7 linked regions of the Homo sapiens genome follow. The protein of the gene in region 1 purifies or fractionates together with the protein of each later gene. This does not show direct contact. Each region holds a gene or a part of one and is shown in the gene's direction. Other genes may lie near its edges. The genes, in order: PRR12, PIK3C2A, REPS1, AP1G1, TNRC6A, TNRC6B and AP2A2.

The links.
Region 2: the proteins of PRR12 (region 1) and PIK3C2A purify together in Homo sapiens (affinity purification with mass spectrometry, with the first as the bait; one large-scale study listed by BioGRID). This does not show direct contact.
Region 3: the proteins of PRR12 (region 1) and REPS1 purify together in Homo sapiens (affinity purification with mass spectrometry, with the first as the bait; one large-scale study listed by BioGRID). This does not show direct contact.
Region 4: the proteins of PRR12 (region 1) and AP1G1 purify together in Homo sapiens (affinity purification with mass spectrometry, with the first as the bait; one large-scale study listed by BioGRID). This does not show direct contact.
Region 5: the proteins of PRR12 (region 1) and TNRC6A purify together in Homo sapiens (affinity purification with mass spectrometry, with the first as the bait; one large-scale study listed by BioGRID). This does not show direct contact.
Region 6: the proteins of PRR12 (region 1) and TNRC6B purify together in Homo sapiens (affinity purification with mass spectrometry, with the first as the bait; one large-scale study listed by BioGRID). This does not show direct contact.
Region 7: the proteins of PRR12 (region 1) and AP2A2 purify together in Homo sapiens (affinity purification with mass spectrometry, with the first as the bait; one large-scale study listed by BioGRID). This does not show direct contact.

The regions. Positions count from the first base shown.
Region 1 is NC_000019.10:49,600,859-49,605,310, forward strand, and holds part of PRR12 (proline-rich protein 12), read left to right. Parts: intron 1-632; coding exon 633-1,060; intron 1,061-4,452.
Region 2 is NC_000011.10:17,089,289-17,093,696, reverse strand, and holds part of PIK3C2A (phosphatidylinositol 4-phosphate 3-kinase C2 domain-containing subunit alpha), read left to right. Parts: intron 1-1,420; coding exon 1,421-1,538; intron 1,539-1,628; coding exon 1,629-1,701; intron 1,702-2,040; coding exon 2,041-2,150; intron 2,151-2,237; coding exon 2,238-2,363; intron 2,364-3,776; coding exon 3,777-3,959; 3' UTR 3,960-4,408.
Region 3 is NC_000006.12:138,907,931-138,912,382, reverse strand, and holds part of REPS1 (ralBP1-associated Eps domain-containing protein 1), read left to right. Parts: intron 1-1,011; coding exon 1,012-1,107; intron 1,108-3,566; coding exon 3,567-3,715; intron 3,716-4,452. UniProt on the Homo sapiens protein: May coordinate the cellular actions of activated EGF receptors and Ral-GTPases.
Region 4 is NC_000016.10:71,731,980-71,736,431, reverse strand, and holds part of AP1G1 (AP-1 complex subunit gamma-1), read left to right. Parts: intron 1-1,724; coding exon 1,725-1,823; intron 1,824-3,272; coding exon 3,273-3,374; 3' UTR 3,375-4,452. UniProt on the Homo sapiens protein: Subunit of clathrin-associated adaptor protein complex 1 that plays a role in protein sorting in the late-Golgi/trans-Golgi network (TGN) and/or endosomes.
Region 5 is NC_000016.10:24,806,142-24,810,593, forward strand, and holds part of TNRC6A (trinucleotide repeat-containing gene 6A protein), read left to right. Parts: intron 1-64; coding exon 65-142; intron 143-432; coding exon 433-643; intron 644-3,208; coding exon 3,209-3,340; intron 3,341-4,452.
Region 6 is NC_000022.11:40,267,788-40,272,239, forward strand, and holds part of TNRC6B (trinucleotide repeat-containing gene 6B protein), read left to right. Parts: intron 1-2,334; coding exon 2,335-2,493; intron 2,494-4,452.
Region 7 is NC_000011.10:984,278-988,729, forward strand, and holds part of AP2A2 (AP-2 complex subunit alpha-2), read left to right. Parts: intron 1-367; coding exon 368-476; intron 477-1,154; coding exon of another isoform or gene 1,155-1,157; coding exon 1,158-1,305; intron 1,306-2,507; coding exon 2,508-2,676; intron 2,677-4,274; coding exon 4,275-4,412; intron 4,413-4,452. UniProt on the Homo sapiens protein: Component of the adaptor protein complex 2 (AP-2). Adaptor protein complexes function in protein transport via transport vesicles in different membrane traffic pathways.

The DNA.
Region 1 (4,452 bases):
GGACTACAGGCGCGCACCACCATGCCCAGCTAATTTTTGTATTTTTAGTAGAGACGGGGTTTCACCATGTTGGCCAGACTGGTCTCGAACTCCTGACCTCAAGTGATCCACCCACCTCAGCCTCCCAAAGTGCTGGGATTACAGGCATGAGCCACCATGCCTGCCCTCTGTGAGGTTCTTAAAAAGCCTGAAGAAGGGAGCTGGCAGACAGGGGAGAGGTTAGCAGTCTGCATACTGGTGAGCAGGCCAAGGAAAGGACAAAGATGGTCCTGGAGGGAGGAGGATGAGGCCTTGGAGGAAGAGGAGGTGAGGAAGTAGAGTTAGGGAGGTGATGATTTAGGAGTTGGGAGGGTCATTCAGGAAGAGGAGTTAAGAACCAGACAAGGGCTTTAAGACCACAAAGAGACATTCCAGGACTGAGAAGGGGATTAGGGATAGGAGACAGGTCTCCTTTGCAGCCGCAGGAGCCAGAGTAGGTCTCTGGAGAGACTCTGATAGGGTAGAAGGGACACTGGGAGCTGAGTGGTAGTTACAGAGGGGCTTTTGGTATAGAAAGCAGTGTTTAAAGGACAAGAGGAAAGGTGCCAGGAATGATGAATAACATCCAGGCCTGATGTCCCTGTCTCCCCCAGAGCCCCCGCTGCTGGAGGAGAAACCCCCACCCACTCCACCTCCTGCCCCGACTCCTCAGCCTCAGCCTCCGCCACCCCCTCCGCCGCCACAGCCAGCCCTGCCCTCGCCACCCCCGCTGGTGGCCCCCACGCCCAGCTCACCACCGCCACCGCCGCTGCCGCCGCCACCTCCACCAGCCATGCCCTCGCCTCCACCACCACCCCCACCAGCCGCTGCCCCACTGGCTGCTCCTCCTGAGGAGCCCGCCGCCCCGTCTCCCGAAGACCCCGAGCTGCCGGACACCCGGCCCCTGCATCTGGCCAAAAAGCAGGAGACGGCGGCAGTGTGTGGGGAGACGGACGAGGAGGCCGGCGAGAGTGGCGGAGAGGGCATCTTCCGGGAACGGGACGAGTTCGTCATCCGTGCTGAGGACATCCCTTCCCTCAAGGTGAGTCCCAGCCTTCTCCAGAAACTGGGCCTGATGGGTTTGGTCACCTGTTTGTTGAGTGCCCGCTGGATGACAGGCTTGTGCTGAGACCTGCAGATCCAGTCGTGGCCGGGCCGCCCTGGAATTTGCAGTCCTATGGGGCTGATAGAGGTGTCGAGGACCTGCGGGCCTCAGAGGTGTTATTTGCGTTTGTGTCTGTACATGCATTACCTGTATATAAGGTAAAGCGATTGTTAACGCGTATGTGTCTATATGTGCGTTACCTGTATATAAGGTGAACCGCTTGTTAATGTTTATGCAGATACCCTGCTGTGGGTGGTAGAGGACCAGTACTGTACAAGCAGATGAGGCTCTGGCCCTAGGGAGCTTCTAGTTTAATGGAACCAGCCAGAGAGGCGGGCTGCTTTGCCATTTATGGCACAATGGTGGAAATGTGTCATTGACATAGACTACCTGCAGATACACACTTATGTAACCTGTAAATATAATCATGAATTGGGCCGGACGCGGCAGCTTACACCTGTAATCTCAGCACTTTGGGAGTTTGAGACCAGCCTAGGCAACATAATGAAACCTTTTCTCTCAAACAAACAAAAAAAGTGAATCATTTAGGAATGGTTATTGTGTGTCAGGCCATATCTTTTTGTTTTTTTGAGATGGAGTTTCGCTCTTGTCCAGGCTGGAGTGCGATGGCTCAATCTCGGCTCACTGCAGCCTCTGCCTCCCAGGTTCAAGCGATTCTCTTGACTTGGCCTCCCAACTATCTGGGACTACAGGCGCAGGCCACCACACCCGGCTGATTTTTGTGTTTTTAGTAGAAATGGGGTTTCACTGTGTTGGCCAGGCTGGTCTCGAACTCCTGACCTCAGATGACCCACCTGCCTTGGCCTCCCAAAGTGCTGGGATTACAGGTGTGAGCCACTGTGCCTGGCTGGCCATAGCTTCAATATTTACCTTAAATACTTAAATACGTAAATGCAGACCAACAGCCTGTTCACTGCTTCCAGTTTGTCTACCGCAGGAGCTTGAAAACTATGGCCCCTAGGCCAAATCCAGCCCACTGCTTGTTTTTGCAAATAAAGTTTTATTGGCACACAACCATGCCCATTCATTTACATGTTGTCTATGGCTGTTTTTCCCATATGGCAGAGAGCTGGGTAGTTAGCTGGCCCTCAATGGCAAAAAATATCTCTGGCTCATCATGAATAAAGTTTGCTGGCCTCTACTGTACTGGGTTCACTGGACAAATAGAGTTGGATCAGAGGATTAATGTGCAAGGCACTTGACAGGGGTAGGTGTTACCAGGTGCCCATGGAGTGCTCTGCACAGGGCATGCGGCTGAGCAGGTGCTCAGGAGGTCAGCCCATTCTCACCCTGATGGTGGCATGGACGCCAAGGCCATTCTCCATGTCAATCATTGTCATTGATTGTACTGATTATGATACAGGATTATTGTTTGGCCCTTCGTGTACAGTGTGACATTTAATCTTGGCGGGGCATGGCGGTTCACGCCTGTAATCCCAGCACTTCGGGAGGCCAAGGCAGGTGGATCACTTGAGGTCAGGAGCTTGAGACCAGCCTGGCCAACATGGTGAAACCCCGTCTTTACTAAAAATACAAAAAATTAACTGGGCGTGGTAGGGCGCACCTGTGATCCCATCTACTCGGGAGGCTGAGGAAGGAGGATCACTTGAACTCTGGGGTGGAGGGGGGAGGTTGCAGTGAGCTGAGATTGTGCCACTGCACTCCAACCTGGGCACCAGAGCAAGACTCCATCTCGAAAAAATAATAATAATAATAATTTAGTCCTGGATGTTGTTTTAATTTAATCTTCGATGTGACATGGAGAAATTATGGGAAGAATTAATTATTAATTATAAGGATAATAACTATCATTACACTTTTTTCTTTTCTTTTCTTTTCTTTTTTTGAGACGGAGTCGCCCAGGCTGGAGTGCAGTGACGCAATCTCGGCTTACTGCAACCTCTGCTGCCCGGGTTCAAGCGATTCTCCTGCCTCAGCCTCCTGAGTAGCTGGGATTACCAGCAAGTGCCACCACACCTGGCTAATTTTTGTATTTTTAGTAGAGAAGGGGTTTCAGCATCTTGGCCAGGCTGCTCTTGAACTCCTTACCTTGTGATCCACCCATCTCGGCCTCCCAAAGTGCTGGGATTACAGGCATGAACCACCGCGCCCGGCCTTACACTTTCTTCTTAAGTGTGTTTTTTGAGGCAAACTCAAATGTATTTTTTCCTGTGTTATTTCAATCTATTTCATTGTGGGAAAAGTAAATAATAGAGCAGGCCGGGAGTGGTGGCTCACACCTGTGATCCCAGAACTTTGAGAGACTGAGGTGAGAGGCTCACTTGAGGCCAGGAGTTTGAGACCAGCTAGGCAAATAGCAAGACCTCACATCTACCAAAAACAAGGGAGCGAGACTGTCTCAAAAAAAAAAAAAAAAGGATATTGACATCGTAGGCCAGGTGCGGTAGCTCACACCTGTAATTGCAGCACTTTGGGAGGCCAAGACGGGCAGATCACCTGAGGTCAAGAGTTCAAGACCAGCCTGGCCAACATGATGAAAGCCCATCTCTACTAAAAATACAACAATTAGCCGGGCATGGTGGCAGGCGCCTGTAGTCCCAGCTACTCAGGAGGTTGAGGCAGGAGAATTGCTTGAACCTGGGAGGCGGAAGTTGCAGAGAGCCAACATCACGCCACTGCACTCCAGCCTGGGCCAAAAGAACAAAACTCTGTCTCAAAAAAATAAAGAAAAAAAGAATATTGACATTGTTAAATGACCGTCACCACCATCCATCTCCAAGTTTTATCTTTTTATATAAAATAAACTTGATTATAGAGACTACTAGTAGCGTTTTACAGGGATGGAAACTGAGGCTCACACAGGTTAAAAAGTCCTTCTGATTGGGGATTTCTATGCCCGTTTTTTCTGAGACAGGGTCTCCCTTGTTGTCCAGGCTGGAATGCAGTGACGTGATCTCAGCTCACTGCAACTTCTACCTCCCTGGTTCAAGCAATTCTCATAACTCAGCCTCTCGAGTAGCTGGGACTACAGAGGATCCCACCATGGTTGGCTAAATTTTGTATTTTTAGTAGAGATGGGGTTTCACCATGTTGGCCAGGCTGGTCTCAAACTCCTGACCTCGGGTGATCCACCCGCCTCGGCCTCCCAAAGTGCTGGGATTACAGGAATGAGCCACTGTGCCTGGCCTATTCTCATTTCATAGAGAAAGAAACCAAGGCACAGAGAGATAAAGTAGCCTTCCCAGGCTTTTGTAGCTTGGGATCCACACCCAGCCCTGCTGGCCCTAGGAATCCGTATTCTTTTTTTTGTTTGTTTGAGATAGTGTTTCGCTCTTGTTGCCCAGGCT
Region 2 (4,408 bases), on another chromosome or scaffold:
CACTGCATTACAGCCTGGGTGACAGAATGAGACCCTGTCCCCCCCCCCCAAAAAAAAAGTCATATGCTAAATCAGTGTAGAAATAATCTATCATGGGCCATACTGAGCTCCTCTGCTAAAAAAACTGAAGCATGGCCGGGCGCGGTGGCTCACACCTATAATCCCAGCATTTTGGGAGGCCAAGGCGGGCGGATCACGAGGTCAGGAGATGGAGACCATCCTGGCTAACACGGTGAACCGTCTCTTCTAAAAAATACAAAAAATTAGCTGGGCATGGTGGCAGGCGCCTGTAGTCCCAGCTACTTGGGAGGCTGAGGCAGGAGAATGGCGTGAACCCAGAAGGTGGAGCTTGCAGTGAGCTGAGATGGCACCACTGCACTCCAGCCTGGGCAACAGAGCGAGACTCCGTCTCAAAAAAATAAATAACAAGCAAACATCATCGAGACTGTCAATCAAAATCTTAGTTTTGTATCTGATACCCTTTGGGAGTCTTCAGTTTTAATGTAGCTCAATGACCAGTAGATTTCCTGTGTCGAGTTTTTTCATATTTTCTTCAGACTAGATTTCAAAAGTGAGGATGAGGTGAAGTGGGTATTAGAGTTTGTTTCCGTGTACAGTTTCATTTTTCCACTGCCACCAAAATAAGTGGAATTAAGATTATCCTTTCAGCACCTTACTTAGGCCTTATGTTATTATTTGTGGATTTTACTGGTATATGTAATATTTATGGCTGATTGAGTAGTGATTTTATTTTTTAGGGATCAGATCTGGATAAAATATTTATGAGTGATTAAACTTGAGAAGAAATATTAGAAAATAAGTATTAAGTAGGTACAAAAGTAATTGCGTTTTTTGCCATTACTTTTAATGTCAAAAACCACAGTTACTTTTGCACCAAGCTAATAATAAATATAGGAAATCAACACATACACCTTTTCAACCAAGGCTCATAAAAGGATAATGGGTGACTGAACGATGTCATCTCCAATACTTTGAAGAGAAATCACAAAAAATTACTTATTTTATTTTGAGACGGAGACTTGCTCTGTCACCCAGGCTGGAGTGTAAGTGATCTCGGCTCACTGCAACTTCCGCTTCCCAGGTTCAAGTGATTTTTCTGCCTCAGCCTTCCGAGTAGCTGGGATTATAGGTATCTGATTATAGGCATCAGCACGCTAATTTTTGTATTTTTAGTAGAGACAGGGTTTTATCATGTTGGCCAACCTGGTTTCAAACTCCTGACCTCAAGTGATCCACCCGCCTTGGCCTCCCAAAGGCCATGAGCCACCGTGCCCGGCCACAAAATATTACTTTATAATGGATTAAGACTACTTTGTCTTTAAGTATATATGAAAAAGTGTATTTCTAAGGAAATATTGTACTTATTTAAATCCCACTTGTTTTTGTTTTTCTTTTGTAGCTTTCCTAATAGGATGGTTCTAGGAAGAACACACATAAAAGATGTAGCAGCCAAAAGGAAAATTGAGTTAAACAGTTACTTACAGAGTTTGATGAATGCTTCAACGGATGTAGCAGAGGTAACCTTACTAAATGAGAAGTAATAACATCTTATACCTTTTGTGTTACATAATATTTAAACTAATGAATTGCTTTCTCTTTATTCTTAGTGTGATCTTGTTTGTACTTTCTTCCACCCTTTACTTCGTGATGAGAAAGCTGAAGGGATAGCTAGGTCTGCAGGTGAGATTATTTTTTTTCTCTTTATTGGTAACTCATGATCTGCAAGTCTGTAACTTCTCGATGAATGTGGTAGAATGACAGCAGGCTTACTAGCTGTAGTCTGAGAATGGGAGGAGAGTATTCTTTCTAAGCCAGTCTATTTCTGAATAAATATAACTTTCCTAATAGATGTGATTACTAAAGAAGTATAAATCAATGACCTATCAGGTTGTTTACTCCTTTTTCCCCTCCCTTCTGTCCGCACCACATGTGACAGTCTTGAAAATAAAGCAAAATCCTTTTATTGCAGCTTGAACCACTACAACCAGTAAATAAAGATGAAAATATTTGTATTTTCAGATGCAGGTTCCTTCAGTCCTACTCCAGGCCAAATAGGAGGAGCTGTGAAATTATCCATCTCTTACCGAAATGGTACTCTTTTCATCATGGTGATGCATATCAAAGATCTTGTGAGTGATTACAAAGAATGATGGTTGTAGAGGAAACCCTTACCTTGGTAGGAAGCATTACTATTAAGGGACTGCTTTTCTTTTTAGGTTACTGAAGATGGAGCTGACCCAAATCCATATGTCAAAACATACCTACTTCCAGATAACCACAAAACATCCAAACGTAAAACCAAAATTTCACGAAAAACGAGGAATCCGACATTCAATGAAATGGTAAGTTAAAATCATTTCTAGAAGTTTCCTTGGTTTATTATTTTTTTAATTTTCATTTTTAAGTTCTGACGTGCGTAAGCAGGATGTGCAAGTTTGTTACATAGCTAAACGTACCATTGTGGTCTGCATACCTATCAACCTATCACCTAGGTATTAAGCCCAGCATGCATTAGCTATTTTTCCTAATGCTCTCCCTCCCACCATCCCATCCCCCAACAGGCCCCAGTGTGTGTTGTCCCCTTCTCTGTGTCCATTGTTTTGAGATTTTAAATTTTAAAACATTTTAAGGCCAGGCGCAGTGGCTCATGCCTGTAATCCTAGCAATTTGGGAGGCCGAGGTGGATACATCCCTTGAGCTCAGGAGTTTGAGACCAGCCTGGGCAACATGATGAAATTCCATCTCTACAAAAAAAAAAAAAGAAAAAAATTAGCTAGGCATGGTGGCACGCACCTGTAATCCCAGCTCCTCGGGAGGCTGAGGTCAAAGGATTGCTTGAGCCCAGGAGGTCAAGGCCACAGTGAGTCATGATCATGCCACTGCACTCCAGACTGGGCAACAGAGTGAGAGACCCTGTCCCAAAAAAAAAAAAATTTTAAGTTTTTAGGTATCAGTTGCTGAACTATTTGTTATACAGTGTACACCAATAACAGTCCAATAGTATTTAACAAAATGATATAAAATAGAGCCCTCATAGACCTTAGGAGCCATAATTCAACTACGTTTCCAGTGTGTGAACCCCCCTCTATAATAGTCACAAAAAGTGGTTGTCTAGTCTGTGCTTAATTACTTCCAGACTATTCAGTTTGTCTTAGATCACTCCACCTCTTAGATGATTATTATTATTATATTATTTTATTTATTTTTAGAGGCAGAGTTTCGCTGTTGTTACCCAGGCTAGAGTGCAATAGAGCCATGTTGGCTCACTGCAACCTCCGCCTCCTGAGTTCAAGTGATTCTCCTGCCTCAGCCTCCTGAGTAGCTGGGATTACAGGCATGTGCCACCACGCCTGGCTGATTTTGTATTTTTAGTAGAGACAGGTTTCTCCATGTTGGTCAGGCTAGTTGTAAACTCCCAACCTCAGGTGATCTACCCGCCTCAGCCTCCCAAAGTGCTGGGATTACAGGCGTGAGCCACCATGCCTGGCCTCTAGTTTTTATTTTTTAGCTAATGATTAGTCTTGCTTTGTATCTCTCTATGTCAGACATCACAGGAATGATAGTACAATCCAAGACTCCTGAAACACAAAATGTCCTTCTAAAGTATTCAGACAAAACCTACCGGATGTGTCATAATCAGTGTCACTCATTGTGGTCACTCTTTGGCTAATATTCTCACGTTTTCACTTGAAATGTTCCAAGAAACCAAACAAACTTTAATTTGTGATTTACTGTTCTTTTTTCCTTTGTTGTAGCTTGTATACAGTGGATATAGCAAAGAAACCCTAAGACAGCGAGAACTTCAACTAAGTGTACTCAGTGCAGAATCTCTGCGGGAGAATTTTTTCTTGGGTGGAGTAACCCTGCCTTTGAAAGATTTCAACTTGAGCAAAGAGACGGTTAAATGGTATCAGCTGACTGCGGCAACATACTTGTAAACTAGTGAATGTTTGAGCTTTGGAAGCATGAACAGTTATAAACGTGCATGCATACATGCACACACACACAGACACACACACACACACTTGTTAATTTTGTATAGTATTTTTATACTTGGACAGAACTTATAAAGTTAAATATACTTGCTGCATTTCAACACATCTGTTGGACCAACAGTCACATAACTAACCTTTTTGAATTTTTGGAAGCCATTGCTGTTTTAAAGTCATTATGTAGAATGCTACAAACCCTAAACTTAATATATACTAATTCCTGAAAAAGACTTTGAGACAGTACTATGTCAGTTCAGCCACCTATTTTGCATTGTTTTCTATAAGGAGGCAAAGCATATGTGTTTTCCTGTTATGCACCTTTTATAGCCTTTACCACTGTGTAATGTTCACAAACACCAAAGTAAAGGAAAAATGCAGGATGTTACCGTAAAATC
Region 3 (4,452 bases), on another chromosome or scaffold:
TAACTTTTAGATCTAATTACAACTTTAACTAAAAACAAATTTCAGCCAAACTTCTAATTAAAGCATTTAAAATTTGTATGAGAGTAAGTTGCCTTAGTTAAGCAAAGACTATAGGATACCAAAATTTAATATTCACAGTGTTCTAGGATATTCTATTGTAGTTCCAATGGCAAGAACCTCTCTAGGAATCTCTGACCTAAATTGCTGAGCATAAATGTGGAGTTGGAGAGACCAGAGGAATTCTGCAATCTCTTTCTTATAGGTCATAGCCATGGAAAATTTCCTACTAGCTCCCTTTTAAAACCTACAACTTTCTGCCGTGCCCATTAGGGGACTGGGCTGCATCTAGGAGGGTCAGAGTGGGCATGTAGAGGTGTGCACAGGGTACCGTACTCACTCCCCTGGGTGGATGCCTCCCTTCTCCCAACCACGAAGACTTCCCAGACTAACCACTTAGAGGTTCGGTGCAGTGGCTGCATCCTCACCCCGTCCTCCTCTCCCTCACACATTTATGACCTGCATCCTCGCCTGTCCTCCTCTCCCTCACACATCTATTACATAGCTGCATCCTCGTCCCCTCCTCCTCTCCCTCACACATCTACTACCTGCATCCTCACCCCATCCTCCTCTCCCTCACACATCTACTACCTGCATCCTTGCCCCGTCCTCCTCTCCCTCACACATCTATTACCTGCATCCTCGCCCCATCCTCCTCTCCCTCACACATCTGTTACCTGCATCCTCGCTCTGTCCTCCTCTCCCTCACACATCTGTTACATAGCTGCATCCTTGCCCTGTCCTCCTCTCCCTCACACATCTATTACCTGCTCTCCCATCTGCCTTTCAGTAGCAGAGAAGGCTCATTTAATAAAGTTCCTTCAAGTTTCTTATCATCATCTCAGTTTTCTTGTCAGAATATTTAACATTTTATTCTGATTTGGTACATATTCTATATTTATGCATAATTACATGTTATGTAGAATTAATAGTGATAAACATATTCATTTTTAGGCTGAAAAAGCTTCTGATCCTGCAAGTTCTCTTCGAGTTGCCAAAACAGATAGTAAAACTGAAGAAAAGACAGCTGCTAGTGCTCCTGCCAATGTGGTATGCAAAATGTCTTTTATAATAATAATTTTGTACATCATAAGTAATGTGAAATAATTTTTAGAAATAAGGTCAGCCAGAAATCATCTAACCCATTTCTCTGCCTTTAACTGTAGTATAGTCAGTCTAGCTCAGAACAAAGTCTGCCTATTTAATGGAGATGATATTCTGTAATCTATGTTAAGTATGTGTCACAGGTTCTCAAAATTTAAGTGGTTATTGCATTCTTCCCACTATATAAGGTAGAACTTCTTTATAGGTGAAATTCAGTTTCTTTTATTGTAGTCTTCAATATAATAAAGAAAAATTATCAGCCCTCTAAGGTTGTTATTATTCCCTGTTCTCTTAACTTGTTCTTTAACTGTTTTAGGTATAATTTTTTCCCCCAACATTTTATTATGAAAACGTTTAAGCATACAGAAAAATTGAAACAATTTTTCATTGTACATCAGTAAATTCACTACTTTATACCATTATTATTTTAGGATACTTGCTTTACTACATATCTCTCCATGCCATCTGTTCATCTGTCAATCCTTATATGTTTTATGTCTGTGTTAGTCCGTCTGCATTGCTATAAAGGAATATGTGAGACTGGGTAATCTGTAAAGAAAAGAGGTTATGCCGGACACAGTGGCTCACACCAGTAATCCCAGCACTTTGAGAGTCCAAGGCAGGCGGATCACTTGAACTCAGGAGTTTGAGACCAGCCTGGGCAATGTGGCGAAACCCCGTCTCTACAAAAAGTACAAATATTAGCCGTGTGTGGTGGTATGCGCCTATAGTCCCAGCTACTTGGCAGGCTGAAGTGGGGGGATCGCTTGAGCCTGGGAGGTGGAGGTTGCTGTGAGCTGAGATAGTGCCCTACACTCCACCCTGGGTGACAGAGTGAGACCCTGTCTCAAAAAAAGAAAAGAGGTTTATTTTGCCTCATGGTTCTGCATGCTGTACAGAAAGCATGGTACCAGCATCTGCTTCTTGTGAAGCCTCAGGAAACTTAGAATCATGGCAGAAGGCAAAGTGGGAGCCGGTGTGTCACATGGTGAGTGAGGGAGCAAGGAGAGATGCCAGGCTCTTTAAACAGCCAGCTCTCATGTGAACTCAAGAGTAAGAACTCATTCATTACTGTGAGAAGGGCACCAAGCCATTCACAAGGGATCTATCTCCATGACCCAAACACCTCCCACTAGGCCCACCTCCAACATTAGAGGTCACATTTCACCATGAGATTTGGAGGGGACAAATATCTAAACTATATCAGTGTACTTTAGATTGCAAGTATCAGCACACTTTCCCTTTGAGGGAATAATTTTGGTAACTTTTTTTTTCTGTTATCTAGACATTCCCAATAGTTATAAAAACAGCATGTGTTTCTGAAGTGCTTAAATTCTACTTTCTGGACACTGTGTGTGTATTAGTCTGTTTTCACACTGCTATAAAGATACCACCTGAGACGGTAATTTATAAACAAAAGAGATTTAATTGACTCACAGCTCTGCATGGCTGGGGAGGCCTCAGGAAATTTACATTTATGGCGGAAGGCAAAGGGGAAGCAGGTGGCAGGATAGAAAAAGAGTGAGGAAGTGCCTCACTGTAAAACCATTAGGTCTTGTGAGAACTCCCTCACTCTCATAAGAACAGCATGGGGGACCACCCCCATGACCCAGTCACCTCCCACCAGGCCCCTCGCTTGACACATGGGGATTACAATTTGAAGTGAGATCTGGGGACACCGAGCCAAACCATATCACTATGTTTTATTACATTAGTAGTCCTGTGAGTTTTTAAGTAATGAACTTTATTTTTGTCAACTCACAGTAACAAATTAAAAATATCACTTAACTAAAGAGATAGCAGTTGACTATTGTTTTTATTTATTTACAGGTAAATCAAGTTATGGTAAATGCCAAAATGCTGTTTTTTATTCTGCCAAGGGCAGATTCATAATCACCGACAAACTGTCAACTCATTTTCAGAAGTTATAATTACTGTGCATATTAATAATGATGTTTTTGGTTTTTTAAAGAGTTGCCTAGCTTTCCATTACTTTATAATGTTATTTTATTCACTAAGATGAATGTTAGTATTTTTGAGTAAGAAATCCTATGGTGATAATGCATAGATATTTCTGGAGACTGCCTTTGTTTATTGTTGAACAGGTATATATTGATTCTGTATCATATTTATGTTAAAACTGTGAATATTACAGTCTTGCATCAGTATGTTGCTCTAAAAATACTTATATTGCAGGTACATTCATGATTGTGGTGTCAACTAGAAACATCTTTTCTCACTGTAATTTAAGTTAGCTCTTGCCACAAATATATAGATTTAAAGTAGGACAAGTAACTTTCAATTTTCCAAGAGCAAATGGCTTAAAGAAAGCAAATGGTGTTGCAAAGTGCTAACTATGAATGTCTTCAAAAATGCTTATTATTAATGGAATTCTTGTCTTAAAGAGCAAAGGCACAACACCACTTGCTCCACCACCTAAACCTGTTCGAAGAAGATTAAAATCAGAAGATGAATTAAGGCCAGAAGTTGATGAACATACACAAAAGACGGGTGTCTTAGCTGCTGTTCTTGCATCACAACCTTCTATTCCCAGGTAATCAAAGCTATTCCTAGACACATTTAATTACTAGGAAGAAAAAGCACGACAATTAAAAGTAATCAAACTGGCCCAGGCGTGGTGGCTCACACCTGTAATCCCAGCATTTTGGGAGGCTGAGCTGGGCAGATCATTTGTGGTCAGGAGTTAGACCAGCCTGACCAACATGGTGAAACCCCATCTCTGCTAAAAATACAAAAAAATTAGCCGGGTGTGGTGGTACACACCTGTAGTCCCAGCTACTCGGGAAGCTGAGGTAGGAGAATTGCTTGAACCCAGGAGGCGGAGGTTGCAGTGAGCCGAGGTGGCACCACTGCACTCCAGCCTGGGCAACAGAGCAAGACTTCATCTCACAAATAATAATAATAACAATAATCAGACTGAAGTAAATTATGGTCAGACTAGTTCTTTAATTGAGCAGAGCCTCCTCATGTACGGGTAGGTATTCTTCCCATGTTTCCCCCTTTATTAAGTTGAATTCAATGCCATTTTAACACCCTGTTTTCAAACCCCGTAGCAGTACATTTTTTAAACTTGATAGTTTATAGTAAAACTGGTATTTTAATTATGGTGTTCTAGACCAGGAATCAGCAGATTAAGTCTTAATGGGCCAAATTCAGCCTATGGCCTGTTTTTGTATAGCCCATGAGCTAAGAATGACTTTTTCTTTTTTGTAGAAGAGAGAAGAAAAAATAGAAGAGAAAAGAAAACAAAAAACTAGAATATGAGACAGA
Region 4 (4,452 bases), on another chromosome or scaffold:
TCCAGCCTGGGCGACAGAGCGAGACTCCATCTAAAAAAAAAAAAAAAGTCATATTTTATAGGTTCTACTATGTACTAATTTCGTGTTTTAATGTTTCTAAAATTAGGATACATTTAAAAATTGGTATCTTGTCATAATTCAGTGGGCAGCATGTTTTCTATCTCAGTGGTACATAAAATAATGGTGTGAATTACGATTGGTATCTTACATTTAATGAAATATGGTAGTAATGAATAATACTTTAGCTTACATAATTTTAATGTGGCAGAATTATGAATAAGACCATATATATATATATATATATATATATATATTTTTTTTTTTTTTTTTTTTGAGATGGAGTCTCACTCTGTCACCCAGGCAACCTCTGCCTCCTGGGTTCAAGCAAATCTCTTGCCTCAGCCTCCTGAGTAGCTGGGATTACAGGCATGCGCCACCATACCCAGCTAATTTTTGTATTTTTAGTAGAGATGGGGTTTTGCCATGTTGACCAGACTAATCTAGATCTCCTGACCTCAGGTGATCTGCCCGCCTTGGCCTCCCAAAGTGCTGGGAATACCGTGCCCAGCCCCCAGTGTAATATATCTGTACATTGAGAGTGAATCTTCACTCTTGCAACTTTTGGCCCTAGAGAAGACTAGTGTCTCTCTCTCTCAAATATTTTAGAAGTTTAATCTACTTTTAGGAAAGATTTTCAAATGCTAGTTCATACAATAGCTACGTAGTACAGTATGGTTTACCTAGCTTGCCCTATATAGCACTTTTTTTTTTTTTTTGAGACGGAGTCTTGCTCTGTTGCCCAGGCTGGAGTGCAGTGGCACAGTCTCGGCTCACCACAACCTCCTGGGTTCAAGCGATTCTCCTGCCTCAGCCTCCCGAGTAGCTGGGACTACAGGCATGTGCCACCATGCCCAGCTAATTTTTGTATTTTTAGTAGAGACGGGGTTTCACTGTGTTGGCCAGGCTGGTCTCGAACTCCTGACCTCGTGATCCGCTCGCCTTGACCTCCCAAAGTGCTGGGATTACAGGCTTGAGCCACCACACCCAGCCAGCACTTTCAACTCTTATTTCTATAAGCAAGCAAATAAACCCCACCAGCATTCAACAAATTAATACTGTTTGGCTTATCTAGGTCTTTTGCTGTATAGGCTGGTTCTGCAAGTCTTTCCGTTCCTTCTGTCATGTGGAGAGGAGGCTCTGACACATTATAGATTATGCAGGCTTTAAAAAACAAAAGTTCAAGTCTCTGCATCCCAGTTATCCAATCACACAAAAGCCTAAAAGCTTATAGTTGGTGACCAGTATGTTGGTTTGCTATTTTTGGGAAGCTTTTCTTTTCATTTCTTTCTGGCTGTTTTTTAAGCCAAAAGCACCGATATTTTACTTGCATAGTTGATCAGTTACCATTAAGTGAAGTTGCCAGAAGAAGAATTGGTCAGCTTTTGAAAAGAGGTAGGCTAGAATTCCTTCTGCCAGAAAGGAGAATGTGGTTTATTACTAGTTGTCATGATCAAAGAACCGAACAGTGGATTTTTACAAATACCACAGGGAGTCAACTCACGTGCTGTGAATTCCTGATATCTAGAAAACAAGTAGTAGGCAAAACTTAGTAGTAGTGAAATCTGTTGCTTGACCCATCATCTGGGTGTCTAAATGGTTTTTGGTATCTCTGACCTAGCGTTGTGTAATTCTTTTTCTGAAGAGTGCCCTTTGTTCCCCCCTAGACATTCCAGCTGCAGCTCTTGTCTCCTAGCAGCAGCATTGTCCCAGCATTTAACACGGGGACCATCACACAAGTCATTAAAGTTCTGAACCCTCAGAAGGTGAGTAGCACATTTGTAGCCAATATCTGAGCCGAAGTGTAAGCATATTTCCCGAAATAAAATTCTGCTTTGTTTCTTTAGGTTTTTCTGACTCATAGTTAGAGAAGAGATCAATGAAAATGCCTGGTCTAACTTCCTTGCTCTTTTGTAAATAACAAATGGAACCCAGAGACATCAGGTGGCTTAGTGGCATCTTATTAAAATGCAACTTCAAAAAAAGCTAGATTAAAGGTCTGGTTTTTGGGGGTAGGGGAGAAGCTTAGACATTTTAATTTATACACAAGTTGAAATCTGAGGTAAGAGCATTTGTTGAAACCAAATACCTACATTTACTGCTACAGTTATTAAGTATGAATAGAAAAATAGAGGCATTTTAAATGAAGCAGCCAAATGAAAAATAGCTTTAGAAACTGAAATTAAGCAATATTTTTATTATCTCTTCTCAAAGAAATAAGCTCACCTTAATAGTAATCAGTTGGTTTTCAGTTTTTGAAAATGGTTCAGAGAATTTCTTTAATAGAGCTCTACTAGTTGCTCATAAGTAACAGTATACTTTCTTTCTCTTGTAACACTTGCCTTTCCTCTGCTATTCACTATATTTTGAGCATCGGCCTCTATAGTACAAGCACAAACTCCTTTGACCATCTGATACAGAGAGTAAAAAATGTCTTAGTGCATTTGTATTTGAAATCTGCCATACAAAAAGTGTCTAATTGAGTTCTCTTAAAACTACTGCTGTTACCTGTGAGTTAAGTCATTTTTTAAAATTTTATGCTTTAGGAACAAAAGGTCATGTTCACATTTACTGTAGGTTTTTCAGATAAAGCAACAGTGTATCTGAATGGAGAGCGTACGATGAGTATATGTTCACCTCATTTTTTAAGAGACTTGGATACAAGGTTTGAATCTTTTTGAAAAGGACTCAGCAAAATGTTACTAGGAGAATGCTCCATGGTGGCTCACGCCTGTAATGCCAGCATTTTAGGAGGCTGAGGTGGGTGTATTATCTGAGGTCAGGAGTTGAAGACCAGCCTGGCCAACATGGTGAAACCCCGTCTCTACTAAAAATAAAAATATTAGTCTGGTGTGGCGGTGAGCCAAGATTGTGCCACTGCACTCCAGCCTGGGCAATAAGAACAAAACCCTGTTTCAAAAGAAAAGAAAAGAAAAAATGCTCCCAAGGAGTTCTGTCCTTTTAATGCAGTTCAAGGATTAAAGCTAACCGTGTATTCTGCAGATGCGCTTTCTCAACTTGGTGGCATGACATTGTTAGCTTCTTGGCTCAAGCCTAGAGTACTGGGTGTTTTTTGTTGTTGTTTACCTGTCATTCTTAACAGACAGCTTTGCTTTAAGTTTTGACCTCTAAGATTAAAAGTCTATTTGTGGACCGGACAGATTCTGGAGATTTCATTTCAGTATATAATTTGCACTTCTCTTTTCCTCTTATAGCAACAGCTGCGAATGCGGATCAAGCTTACATATAATCACAAGGGCTCAGCAATGCAAGATCTAGCAGAGGTGAACAACTTTCCCCCTCAGTCCTGGCAATGAGGGTTTGGCACCATTCTCATTCTTTATCCCACTCAATCAAAGGAACTCTGGGAAGGAGGTTGTGATTGCTGGCAAGTCCCCCCCAACTGTACCACGGGCATGAGGAGCTGAAGAGAACTGCTGAGGAGGATTTTCCTAAAGTTACTGCTGACCTTGAAGCATTGTTAAAGACTAATGTCCTCTCCTCCACTGTTGAGGCTGGCTGCTTCTGGAGGCTACTTTGCACTCTTCCTCTTCTCCTTTTTCCGCACTTCTCCACCCCTCCCACATTTACAGCCAGAATCAACATTCCCTGGGCCCCTGAGGAAATAAGCAGCTGGTCTGGAGGAGAGGACTGCAATCCATGGCGAAAAAACACTCACTTTGTCTCTGCAGCAAAGAGTTGCCCCTTCTTTCTACTGTTGTTTCTCTGTGGACTGGGCAAGGTGGGGTATTTATTCCTCACTAGCTGGGTTACCATCTTCAGGCACTTTTAACATCTGGCATTCGGAATGGAAATGTAATAATGGACATTAGGGAGCCCTGCCTTTTTCTACTGGTTCCCCCAATGTTTGAAAGAGGCATTAGGCTCCTGGTAGCCTTTTCTGTGCATTGCTGTATACACACAGACACACACATGTATGTTTGTTACCAAGAACTGGTCAGACCTTGCGAGTTTATTTGTAAACACTGGACAGATGGAGTTAAAAAGAGCTTTTGTTGAGATTTGGCATGAAGGATATGGTGCTCTATTTGTAATAGAAACTTCCAAGGCTCTTCCAGCTCCCCTTTCTCGCCATTCTTTAGCTGTAGTCATGAATAGTCTCCATGATTTTCAAAATTGATTCCCTTTAAAGTGCAAAATGGTCACCTTCTAAAAGATATATTCATAGTTATTAATGACCCTATTCCCACCACAAATTTTAAAGTGCTCCTAAGCCCATAACTTGCCTGTTTGAACTATGGTAATGGGTGGAAGAGGAGTTCACCAGTTTCAAAGATCAGACTCTGTATCAAAAGTACCTTTGCCCTTAGGAAGAGTGAGTATTGGAGTCATCTTATCTATTACTCCAAACCTCCCTTTTTATTTCTTGAGCCT
Region 5 (4,452 bases), on another chromosome or scaffold:
CATTTGGAAGCACACACTTTGTAATGGTGTGATAGTAACAACCTTTTCGCTATCTTTCCTCTAGCGATTGTTAGCGCAGCAGCAAAGGGCGCAGAGTCAGAGAAGCGTGCCTTCTGGGAACCGGCCGCAGCAAGACCAGCAGGTAGAGCCCGCCCTGCAACTCGCAATGCTGTCTTTGTGTTAATAAACTCTGCTTATCTCCATTGTAGCAAGAGATTCAGAAATGTCTTTCTTAAAACAATCTTACTAAGATGTAATGCAGTATGTTTTTCATTAAGTCTGCTGGTTGCCCATGAGTTATGTGAACATTATACAGTGATTATTCACCTTTCTGCTGAGACGAAAGTGAATTCAAAAATGGAGAGGAATATGTAGTTTTCTGTAAAGACGTTTTCCCCCAGTAATTTTTTCCAATCATTTCATTGTTTTAAGGGTCGACCTCTTAGTGTGCAGCAGCAAATGATGCAACAATCTCGTCAACTTGATCCAAACCTGTTGGTGAAGCAGCAGACTCCACCATCTCAGCAGCAGCCACTCCATCAGCCAGCCATGAAGTCTTTCCTTGACAATGTCATGCCCCACACTACACCTGAGCTGCAAAAAGGGCCATCACCAATAAATGCTTTCAGCAACTTCCCTATAGGTGGGTTTCTCCTTGGCCCAAGTATTGGACTGATGCTTAGGTATCACAGGCGTGCCTCCTTCACACGTACCCTTACAGCTCTGTTCCTTCATGAAAGCTACATTGATCTCTTAGCTGTTCCCTCTCAGAGAGTTGCCATCCCCTCTCCTAGTTTTAACCTGCTCCACATTCAGGGAAGGTCTCTCTCCTCAAGAAAATCACGATTTTTCTTTTCTTTCCTTTTCTTTTTTTTTTTTTTTAGGACAGAGTCTTGCTCTGTCACCCAGGGTGGAGTGCAGTGGTGAGATCTTGGCTCACTGCAACCTCTGCCTCCCGGGTTCAAGCGATTCTCGCACCTCAGCTTCCCGAGTAGCTGGGATTACAGGCGCGCACCACCACGCCCAGCTAATCTTTGTATTTTAATAGATTTGGGGTTTCACCATGTTGGCCGGGTGGGTCTGGAACTCCTGACCTCAGGTGATCTGCCTGCCTTGGCCTCCCAAAGTGTTGGGATTACAGGCATGAGCCACCATGCCCAGCCTTCAAAATCACACTATTTCAAAAACTCCACACTCGTTTAAAGTGCATTAGAATAAAGGAAACATTTCACTTTTTAAAGGACTAGCTGTCTTAATCTTAAGTAGGATATTAAGGGTGGGAAGGAAGGCTGATGTTCTTATTAGAAACAGTACACCAGAGAATTTTTGAGCAGTGCTGTTTTGGTGAAACAGCTGGGGATGGTCACAGTCACATTTGCTAGCTCTCAGAACTTGAAGTTTTAACTACTGTCTAACTATGTATAAATGATTACTGATATAAATTTAAAAATGGAGGTAAGAAAGGAGATTGCCTTTCTTATACATGCAACTCCCCACCCCCACCCACTCTTTTTTCTCTGTTATCTCCAGGCTTTTATTCACTGGGTAGAGATTTTGAGCTTATATGTTGTTTCTTTCCTAGGTCTCTTTTTTTCTTGTGCCCTTGATTATATTTTAACCATTGATTGTTCATGCCCTGTTTATTTTGCTTTTTTTCTCTCTCTTTTCCTATACAGTGGTTTCTTGTAAACCAGCTTTGCTGGTTGTTAGCCAGAGTGTTTGAAGACCATCAGTTAACTAGTTGTTCTGGGCTGTGGGCAGAGGCTGGGGCATGCTGTTGCCCCTGCTGCTGCCTCACTCTGTGACTGAACTGGTTTGGCTCAGCCTGGTATTACCACAGACTCTCACCTGGGACATAAATTGTACTTTGAGTCCTTAGGATTGTTAGTGATCTCTGCATTTCCAAAAACAGTTCCCTTGTCAGTTACTACTGTGGGTGAATACTGAAGAAGCCATTTAGTGGTGGCCAGGTGATGTCAGAGACAACAGTTAGTAGTAAAAGAATGATACCCAAGTACAGGGAGAAGTTTTTGTCTCATCAGTGAAGGGAGCTGGCTCTTCCTATTTGACTGCACACTTGACATATAAATTGGCCACATAAGTTCTAAGCATAGGATTTCCTGCCCTGGCCAGCTTCTCAGTGAGGGATACTTCTTGATTAAGAAAGTCTGCTTAGCCCATGCAAATACCAATACAGTTATCTAAGTTCGGCAACAGGCTATGGCCTGTTGGCCAAATTTGGCCCACTGCCTGCTGTTGTAAGGTTTTGTTGGACACAGCCACATTTTCTCTAACCTGGGGTCTGTGGCTGCTTTCGTGCTGCACCAGCAGAGTTGCATGGAGACACCGGGACCATGTGGCCCACAGAGCCTGAGATACCGGCTGAACCTCTGCAGAAAAAAATTGTCAACTCCTGATCCGATTGATGGGTCCAAGAGTAGCAAATTTAATTGCTCTCTGCAAAAATACGCATGGTATTAGAGAATTTGTATTATTAAAGTTTTCAGGTTTGACAGACCTTAACATCACATGGACTCATCAGACCAGAGAATTTAAAACAATTTAATTTGGAACTTTAGAATAAGAACCTCTTGGGAATTGTGAAACAAAGATTCTGGCTCCCACTGGAAAGTCTTCATTTTTAAACAAGCGTTTTAGGTGATTCTAATATTAATAGTCCCTAGATTACTCTTTTAAGAAAAACTAGCTTAATAGTTTTCTGACCACTGTATCTAAGGTTGAAATTTCCATTCTTGTTCCAAGAGAATATCCAAGTCTGAGGGGCCTCATCAGCAAAGGTCAAGTAAATTGTGCCTTAAGATATATCTGTCCCCAGCCTAGGTGTAATTGCTAGTACAGGACATTTTTACTTTAGAATTTGCAAGCAAAAGATAGCAACTGAAAGTGACCACAGATCTTCATGCATAGGTACACTTGGGAAATAGCTAAACAGATACATTTTATTCCAAGTAAACTTATACATCTGGCTTCCTTAAAACTTTTCTCCCTCTTATTTTGCCAAGGAGTTTTAAATAAATCATCAAAATTTTATGGAGAAATATTTTCTACGTATAACTAAATTATAGTATTAACAGTTATGTGGTTTGAAAACATTAGTTACATGTTTTTCTAGGAAATAGAAGTTGTGCTACTAGAAAGAAAATGTGCTGTATTTTCTAAGGTTTTGTTTTGTTTTTTAATTTTTCAGGCTTGAACTCAAACTTGAATGTAAATATGGATATGAACAGTATTAAAGAGCCACAGTCAAGACTAAGGAAGTGGACGACAGTGGACAGCATTTCTGTGAACACATCTTTGGATCAAAACTCCAGCAAACATGGTACAAAAGATACATCTTACCAAAAAAAAAAAAAAAACACACACACCTGCAGAATACTAGATTTAGGCCTTTATTTTATTTTAAATGTGTTTTCAAAGCCAAATTATCTTAGAACTTTTCCTCATTTAAAAAAAGTTGTTATTAAGTCTTAGTTACAATAAGAGACTTTCAGATGAAAAGCAGAATTTACCTCTACTCTGTTTTATAAAGGAGAGATCAGATGATACATGTTTAAAAATTATTTTCTCTTTGGCTTTTTACATTTTTCTAAGTGATTTTATTCTTATATTATTACACTTATTAACATTTACTGGATTTAATTTGATATGTTCTTAGGACATTTAAAACTTCTACCAGGGTCCCATTCCGTCACCCAGGCTGGAATGCATTGGCATGATCTCAGCTCACTGAAAACTCTGCTCCCGGGTTCAAGCAGTTCTCCTACCTCAGCCTCCTGAGTAGCTGGGATTACAGGCCTGAGCCACCATGCCCGGCTAATTTTTGTATTTTTAGTAGAGACAGGGTTTCATCATGCTGGCCAGGCTGGTCTCAAACTCCTGACCTCAGGTGATCCATCTGCCTTGGTCTCCCAAAGTGCTGCGATTACAGGTGTGAACTACTGCACCTGGCCCATAATTTTATTTCTATCAATTCCTTATATATGGACACATTTCTTTATATAGCTTATTGCTATGTGTAAGTCATATGGATTTAACAGTATTGTCTTTTCAGCAATTAAATTTTTTTTAGAAATGCCGTTTTCATCTTATTTAGTATTATCCATTCACCCAGCAAATATTAATCGAGTATCTTCTGCTTTCCAAGGCTATGTTAGCACCTGGAATACATAGACACAATGTACATACATGCTTACAGTTGAATGTATGTATGTATGTATATACGTAAAATTACTTGCCCTGGAATTGTTCATTGTGAACGAAAGTATGTCAGCAGCTTTAGTACAATATAATAGGTAATATCAAAGTTAATATTTATAATAGTTTAATAATACCAAGTTCCTTAGGAGCATTGAGTCAGGAATAACTGCAGGTGTGGTGGGTCTAGAAAGGTGAAAAAGACTTACCTTGAGAAGAGTAAGTTTACCACACAAA
Region 6 (4,452 bases), on another chromosome or scaffold:
AAGCCCTGGAGATGGGAGGCTGTAGGGAGCTATGATCTCACCACTGCACTCCAGTTTGGGAGACAGAGCGAGACCCTGTTGCCAAAAAAAAAAGAGCGATTGTTAGGATAGTCAGTTGCCCAGAATTAAACTTTCTTCCGTCACTATTTGAATAGGAAACATCATACCTGGTAAAAGTAGCAATGGTAATGCCATTCTTAGTTTGTCATTGTCAACTTGAATGTCCCTATAGAGCATATAGTTCAACAAATTAAGGGGGATGCACCTTTCAGTCTTTTTTTAGTTAAAATTAATATTAAGAACCAGTTTTCTTTTTTTGAGACAGAGTCTCACTCTGTTGCCCAGGCTGGAGTGCAGTGGCACGATCTCGGCTCGCTATAACCTCCGTGCCAAGTTCAAGTGATTCTCTTGCCTCAGCCTCCTGAGTAGTTGGGATTACAGGCACCCACTGCCATGCCCAGCTAATGTTTGTATTTTTAGTAGAGACAGGATTTCACCATGTTGGCCAGGGTGGTCTCAGACTCCTGACCTCAGGTGATCCACCCGCCTCAGTCTACCAAAGTGCTGGGATTACAGGCATGAGCCACTGTGCCCAGCCAAGAATCAGTTTTCTCCGAGTACACCTCTAGTGTTCAGCTAATCCATTTGTGGCCTCTTAGAAAAATGATTACTTTTAACTCATTCTTTTTTCAAGTATTGAAAAGAATGAGGAAGGAAATGAAGATTTCTCACTGGCTCCCCATGCAGAATAAAACCTGCTAAAATTTTAAAAAGCTACATCCACATAGCAAAAACCTTCAAACTGTGTGGAAAAGCAAAAGATAGTCAATAAAATAATCTTTGGCCAGGCGCGGTGGCTCACGCCTGTAATCCCAGCACTTTGGGAGGCCGAGGCGGACAGATCATGAGGTCAGGAGATCGAGACCATCTTGGCTAACACGGTGAAACCCCGCCTCTACTAAAAAATCGAAAAAATTAGCCAGGCGTGGTGGCGGGCACCTGTAGTCCCAGCTACTCGGGAGGCTGAGGCAGGAGAATGGGGTGAACCCAGGAGATGGAGCTTGCAAGTGAGCTGAGATCACGCCACTGCACTCCAGCCTGGGCGACAGAGCAAGACTCCGTCTCAAAAAATAATAATAATAATAATAATAATAATAATCTTAACCCCTAGGGTCTCTTCCCAAAGGTAATCTCTTAGAAGTTTGTGTCCCATTCAAAAATTTTACAGAGAAGGGATTGTACTTCGTATACTGTTCTTCACCTTGCTTTTCTCATTATACTTATAGCTTCCAATTTTAGCACATAGTCTGCTGCTTAATTGCTTCATATACAGTATTTCTTTTTTTTTTTTTTTTTTTTTTTTTTTGAGAGGGAGTCTCACTGTCTCCCAGGCTGGAGTGCAGTGGCGCAATCTTGGCTCACTGCAACCTCCACCTCCCGGGTTCAAGTGAGCCTCCTTCTCAGCCTCCCGAATAGCTGGGATTACAGGCATGCGTCGTCACGCCCAGCTAATTTTTGTATTTTTTGCTGGAGATGGGGTTTTGCCATGTGGGTCTGGCTAGTCTTGAACTCCTGACCTCAGGAGATCCACCCGCCTTGGCTCCTAAAGTGCTGGGATAACAGGCGTGAGCCATTGTGCCTGGCCTTTACACAGTACTTCTTTTATGGGTGACCCACAATTGGTCTAACCAGTCCCCTTGTGGTGGATATTTAGGTTGTTTCCAAATTTTTTCTATCAGTGATGCGGTGAGTATTGTTATACATGTAATTTCACCTATTTTTACAAGTATATTTATGGTATAATTTTCTGGCAGCCTGGGCATGATGGCTCATGCCTGTAATCCCAGCACTTTGGGAGGCTGAGCCAGGCAGATCACAAGGTCAGGAGTTTGAAGCCAGCCTGGCCAATGTGGTGAAACCCTGTCTCTACTTAAAAAAAAAAATACAAAAGTTAGCTGGGTATGGTGGCACACGCCTGTAATCTCAGCTGCTCGGGAGGCTGAGGCAGGAGAATCGCTTGAACCTGGGAGGTGGAGGTTGCCATGAGCCAAGACCACGGCATTGCACTCCAGCCTTGGGGATGGAGCAAGACTCTGTCTCAAAAAAAAAAAAAAAAAAAAAATTCCTGGCAGTTGAGTTACTGGGTGAAAAGTTTAATGTGCATCGGATTTTTTAAAAAGTAGCATTGCCAAATACCCCTCACATGAAAGTTGAATCTATTTACATTTCTACCAACAGAATATAGGCATGCCTGTTCCTTCCACCTTCACCCCACTGGATATTATGGCATTTCATTTAACAAATGATTCTTAGAGACATTTCCTTTCTTTATAGTCTGGAGCAAAAGCACACCACCTGCTCCAGATAATGGTACTTCCGCTTGGGGTGAGCCAAATGAAAGCAGTCCTGGGTGGGGCGAGATGGATGATACAGGAGCATCGACCACAGGCTGGGGGAACACGCCCGCCAACGCTCCCAATGCCATGAAGCCTAGTAAGTGTGAAGCTTTTCATTTTTGAGGGATCCTTTTTTTTTTTTTTTTTTAATTGAGACGGAGTTTCACTCTTGTCCACCCAGGCTGGAGTGCAGTGGTGCAATTTCGGCTCACTGCAACCTCTGCTTTCCAGCTTCAAGCGATTCTCCTGCCTCAGCCTCCCGAGTAGCTGGGATTACAGGCGCCCGCCACCACGCCCGGCTAATTTTTGTATTTTTATTAGAGATGGGGTTTCTCCATGTTGGTCAGGCTGGTCTTGAACTCCTGTCCTTGTGATCCACCCGCCTTGGCCTCCCAAAGTCCTGGGACTACAGGCGTGAGCCACCGTGCCCGGCCGGGATTCTTTGTTAAATGTTTGTCAAATGTCAGATTTGAGAATCTGACATTTTGGTGAGGGCTGTTTAGTTTTAAGCTGTTGATTCAATGAGATTCAGGACCTTGAGTGTTAAATAATTAGTTAATAGCAAACGGTTGTGGCTTGGCTTGGCGTTTCTTAAAATGTTTAAGGTGAATTAAAAATCATAAGTTAATTTTGTTTTAAATTTAGTATCTGGACAGAATTATAATTTTGATGTGATGCTCTTTTAGCCCAGTGACTATGTGCTCACCATATCTAGCTTGCATTTCTACTTGTTAGTATAATTTAAAACAAGAGTTCCTGGCTTTTAATGTGGAACACGATCTGTGCTGCCCAGTGACTTCATCCTTCTGCACCTTCCTTTGCCGTTGTCTCTCTTCCACATAAGAGCATTTCAGATTTTTTAAACCTGGCATAAATTTCACTTCAATTTTTTAAATGAAGAACGTCACACTTATTCAGAATCATTGAAAATCTAAAATCTAAGCTGTACTTGATCCAGCTGGTGATGTGTGGTCACAGTAATGAGCAGAACTCTGTGGACTGAGGCTATGGAATGTCTCATTGACTGTTGCTAAATTCAGGTGCCTGTTTACACTTACTTTTGTAACTTTCTTTAAAATGTTCCAACATCTCTTTTCTACCATATAGAAGCAGATTTAAGGGATTATCTTTTGATTAAATAATGAACATTTCTGGAATGACCAAAATTCAAACAAGAAGATAAATTCTGTTAAGTTTATCACATTATATTCAGTACTCTTACAGTGCCACATAAGGGAATGTGATATTAGCTCTATTCTGGAAATTCACATGTGTGTATATGTAGTAATTTGACTACATTTTAAAAATCATGAATCTCCTCGACCTCATTAAAATAGTTAGCTTTATGAAAATTTTGTTTTTATCATTATTTCTATTGTGAAATCAGTCGTATCATCATGGGAAATGTAATCTAGTAGACTTGAAATAGACCCAAAATGCTGCAAGAAGATGTTAATCAGACCCTGGGCACAAAGAGATCCTTTAGCAGTATATTCAGGATTTTCATGTGTCTTTCCCAACCTCAGGATCACCTCTCTTCTATCACAAAACCACTTTTCCTCAGATTCTAAAAATGTCTTCTACTCTTCAGGATCATCTGTAGTTATAGCACACATCCTTTCTGTGGGTAAGTTAAATGTGTAATGTGCGGAAGAAAGGGCTAAACCATCATAGTCTACCAGTTGATGGAGACAGTTACCCTGTGATCTTCTGTAGCCTGTCTTAAATTTGATGTTATGAATCCTATGATTAAAAATTAGACCTCTCTTATCTTTTCTGTAAGAAACATTTGTTAGAAGTTTAGCTTTATCTCTCTAAAAGAAAGGTTCACTTGCATGTCTTCATTTTTCTAAAGGGGTCAGTGTGTTATTTATATTGGGTTTTTAGCTCGTGTTGCTTGTCAGTGGATGCTATAAAGCCTATGCTTGTATAATATAAATCATAAATATGGTATTATATAAATATATAATCCTATATACAGAGGCAGCAGTCCTGGTTATCAGCAGCACTTCCAGCAGCAGGAAGAGGAGCATCCCAACCCTCCCCCTTGTGCACA
Region 7 (4,452 bases), on another chromosome or scaffold:
GGGTCAGAATGCCGGCTTCTGGGGGTGGGGGTGCTTCTTCCTTCTGAGGAGGCTAAAGCTCTCTCTCTGATTTCATTCACGTGCCGGTCCACAAAGGAAAGACTGTAGTTTCAAATCCAGGTGCTATGGTGTCTTGTACCGAGCGAGGGCTGCCACTCAGCTGCGGCAGCGTGTTGCCGAGTGACAGTGCAGCCCTCTCACGGCGAACCCAGGGGGTACCAAGCAGTGTCAGACACTCTTGGCACATGAAACAAAACCATTTTTCCAGCTCAGGCGTGACCCGAGGAGTGAGTATGGCTTTTCTTTGGGTCCCCGCAGTAGGGGCTCGTGTCCGGCAGCGTGTCTCATTGCCTGTGCTGTCTTACAGATCGTGACGTCTGCATCCACAGATCTCCAGGATTACACTTACTATTTTGTCCCGGCTCCCTGGCTGTCTGTCAAACTGCTGAGACTGCTGCAGTGCTACCCACCCCCAGGTAACGCGCAGGCCGCGGCTCCTGAAGCTGCACCAGTGCCAGTCTGATTCCCTGTCTCAGATTTAAGTGGTTTGTTTGTTATTTTAAGAAGTGTGTTACTAGCCCTGTCTCTTGATTCATGGACCTTTCTGCCAGTGCTGCTGTATGCGCTGGCTTTCGTGGAGCAGTTATTGCAGAGCCTACAGTTTTGTTAGTGTTTGGGTCTATTTGTGCTTTTATAGTATCAGATTTGTGCAGGTTTTCTTTTTGAGATGGAGTCTCCCTTTGTTGCCCAGGCTGGAGTGCAGTGACGCGACCTCAGCTCACTGCAACCTCTGCCTCCCGGGTTCAAGCGATTCTCCCACCTCATCTTCCTGAGTAGCTGGGATTACAGGCACCTGCCATCATACCCGGCTAACTTTTGCGTTTTTGTAGAGACGGGGTTTCACCATGTTGGCCAGTCTGTTCTTGAACTCCTGACCTCAGGTGACTGGCCTGCCTCGGCCTCCCAAAGTGCTGGGATTACAGAAGTGAGCCACCGTGCCCGGCCTGTCTCAGTTTTGTAAATGCTTCCAGCTGGGTACACAAATGTGAATGAACTATATTAAAAATGCTCTCATGATGTATGGGTGCAGCCGGGAGGGGCAGGGTGGGCTGCGGGCCACTGGAGACTGGTGAGCACCGTTCTGTCTTGCCCAGAAGACCCTGCAGTGCGAGGCCGCCTGACTGAGTGCCTGGAGACCATCCTGAACAAAGCCCAAGAACCGCCCAAGTCGAAGAAGGTCCAGCACTCCAACGCGAAGAATGCCGTGCTCTTCGAGGCCATCAGCTTAATCATTCACCATGACAGGTGTGTCGGCTGCCTGTGGAGAGGCTTCGTCTCGCGCACACACACACGTTCCTTCTCGTTGGCACGAGACTGGGCGGATCATGTCTGGTTTGTCCACTCCATGGGCCTCCCCTTCGTCCTGCCTCTGTGCTCCCTGCCGGATGCTTTTTTTCTTTCTGTGCAGCCCGGCCCCTCCTGCTCTGAGCTCACCGTGGATTGCTTTGGTGACTGTGGTCTCATCCCACACGAGGGCCTTTTCCTCCTTCCCCTGAGCATCCCCACTCCTGACTGGCTTCTCATGTAGTGGAACAGAGAGGAGACGGGTGGGGTGGGGGGTGTGCGCGCATGTCCCGTGGCTTTGCTGGATGTGGAGCCGCACTTGGTGGGTCCAGGGTCGCAGGGCAGTGCTGGAAACGTCTGTGCCCATCCACGAAGCGCAGAGGCGCAGGGTGGCGGTCGCTCCACACAGCCTGGAGGGTCTGCCTCCTCTGCTCCCACGCCTTCTCTGCTCAGCAGTTGCGGCGCACCACATGTGGTCTGGCGTGGGTCTTGCGTGTGGGGCCATGCTTTAGGGTCCTGTGAGAATGAGATCGCAGTTCTCACCAGGCTCCCAATAATGAGGGCACGTGCCAGGCTGTGGGCAGACGCTCTCTACAGCTTGTGAACACCACCCATTTGCTACTACAGCATTTTTACAAATGATGAAAACTCAGTCTGAGAGTCACACTTCAGAACTGAGAGTTATTAAAACTGAAATTTCCCATTTTGGAGAAAGCTCTGTTGTTATGTGAGGAGAAGCCACATCCTGAGGAGACAGTAGAGTCAGTGGGGCAGCAGCCGCGCTCCCGGCCTTCTCGGCCTTCTCCCTGCCCTGGGCTGGTGCCTCTGGCTGAGACCCCATTGCCGGTCACAGCTTGACCGGCCTCCCGCGGGCCTGATGCAGATTGAGGCTCAGGAGGTGCTGGGAAGGCTCCAGTGGACACACGGGCTGCTGACTCACTGTGGGGATGCACAGGATGGACACAAAATGGATGTCAGGGGTGGGGGTCGGGCGTCATCTGCATCTGGGGAGGCCCCCGAGTTCCCACTTGAGCAGTGTGGTGGCGGTGAGTGCCGTGTGACTTTGCTGTCTGCCATCTGGACCCGTCGGGGAACGCAGACTCTGTCCAGTTTGTGTTGCACTTGCTGAGGAAACCCCACCCACTTCCCCTCCCTCCACACAGTGAGCCGAACCTGCTCGTCCGTGCCTGCAACCAGTTGGGCCAGTTTCTGCAGCACCGCGAGACCAACCTGCGCTACCTGGCCCTGGAGAGCATGTGCACGCTGGCCAGCTCTGAGTTCTCCCATGAGGCTGTCAAGACGCACATCGAGACGGTCATCAACGCCCTGAAGGCGAGTGCCCTGTCCTTGGGTTCTGCTCACTCCCTGAGCAGGTGCCGTGGGTCTTCCTGTGAAGGCTGGGGGTACGCAGTGCCTCCTGACTCCCCGCAGAGATGGAGGTGGTGCTGGTGCTGCTGGCCTCCGCCTGTCACCTACTCTTGGGAGGTCACACCACTGTTGAGGGCCATGCTGCCTGGAGATGGCCGGGTTGGCCCTGCTGTCCTGGTTAGGCTGAGCAGAGGAGTCTCTGGCAGCCCTTTCCCTGCTGGGGGCAGCCCCCGTGTGCCATCCTGCGCGTGCATAGTGCTGACAAGTAGAAATGGTTCTTCTTGGTAGAAAGATGAAATTTTTTTCCCTTATCTCCAAGAAAATCCCCCTTTTACAAAGGAAACTCACTTTGTTCGGGGATTAAAATTTCAGAGTTGGGGCCGGGCGCGGTGGCTGACGCCTGTAATCCCAGCACTTTGGGAGGCCGAGGCGGGTGGATCACAAGGTCAGGAGATCGAGACCATCCCGGCTAACACGGTGAAACCCCGTCTTTACTAAAAATGCAAAAAAAAATTAGCCGGGCGTGGTGGCGGCCGGTGCCTGTAGTCCCAGCTACTCAGGAGGCTCAGGCAGAAGAATGGCTTGAACCCAAGAGGCGGAGCTTGCAGTGAGCCGAGATCGCGCCACTGCACTCCAGCGTGGGCGACAGAGCGAGACTCCGTCTCAAAAAAAAAAAAAAATTTCAGAGTTGGAAGAGCCCAGTTGAGGTTGGCCATTGCCAGCCTTTGCGAGTCTCCAGAGCGACCCCGAGGGTTCGTTCCACATAGGGGACCCTGCGGTGTGTCCACCAAGTCCCTAGTCACCGGTGCACATGCGTTAGGGAGTGGGAGGCGGGGAGCTGCATGTCCCCCATCTGGCTCAGCCTCAGGCTGTGGCAGGGCTGCTCCCAGTCCCCCGCACGTCTGCGTGCAGCTCACAGATATTCCGGGTGGTGTGCAAGGGGCTCGTGGTGGGCATTTGGTATTCTGGATTCTTCTTGGTCCTGGTTTTGGTGTTTGTTTTAGTCAATCCCTATTGTCAGAAGGGCTGGACACTCATTTGCACACGGCCAGTGCTAGCGCTGGTGGTGCCCACTCTCCTGCCTTTGTTGGGAGCAGAGCTCGGGCTTTCTCGTGCTGCAGAGCCTCCTGGGGGCCCATCAGCACGGGCTCTGGGGTGGGGCGTGAGGACCTGCCTTGGGGCAGCTCCGTGTCCGAGGCAGTGGGGTCTTTGGCTGCATGGAAGGGAGTCCTTGATGGCCTGCACCAGGCAGTGCGCTCAGTCCTAGCGAAGCTGGCCCTTGTGGAGGGCAAGGGAGGCATGGACGAGCGGGCAGAATCCAGGCAGTGCGCTGGGTCCTAGCGAAGCTGGCCTGTGCGGGAGGGCCGGGCCAGCAGGCGGAACTCTATTCCGGGCTGTCCAGACACACGTGGCCCGAGTGCAGGTCGGCTCCCTGGACCTGGATGTGCATGTGAGGGAAACTCAGAGTGGGTGTTGAGATGCGGGTGCCGAGCCTGTCCCCAGCCTGTCCCCAAGCTTGTGCCTTGCTCCTGCGACCTCTTACTCTGTGCCTTGTTCCCCAGACTGAGCGGGACGTGAGCGTGCGGCAGCGGGCCGTGGACCTCCTCTACGCCATGTGCGACCGCAGCAACGCCCCACAGATCGTGGCCGAGATGCTGAGCTATCTGGAGACAGCTGACTACTCCATCCGAGAAGAGATTGTGAGTTCTGGTGGCCTCTGAGTCCTCTCCTGCCACAGGC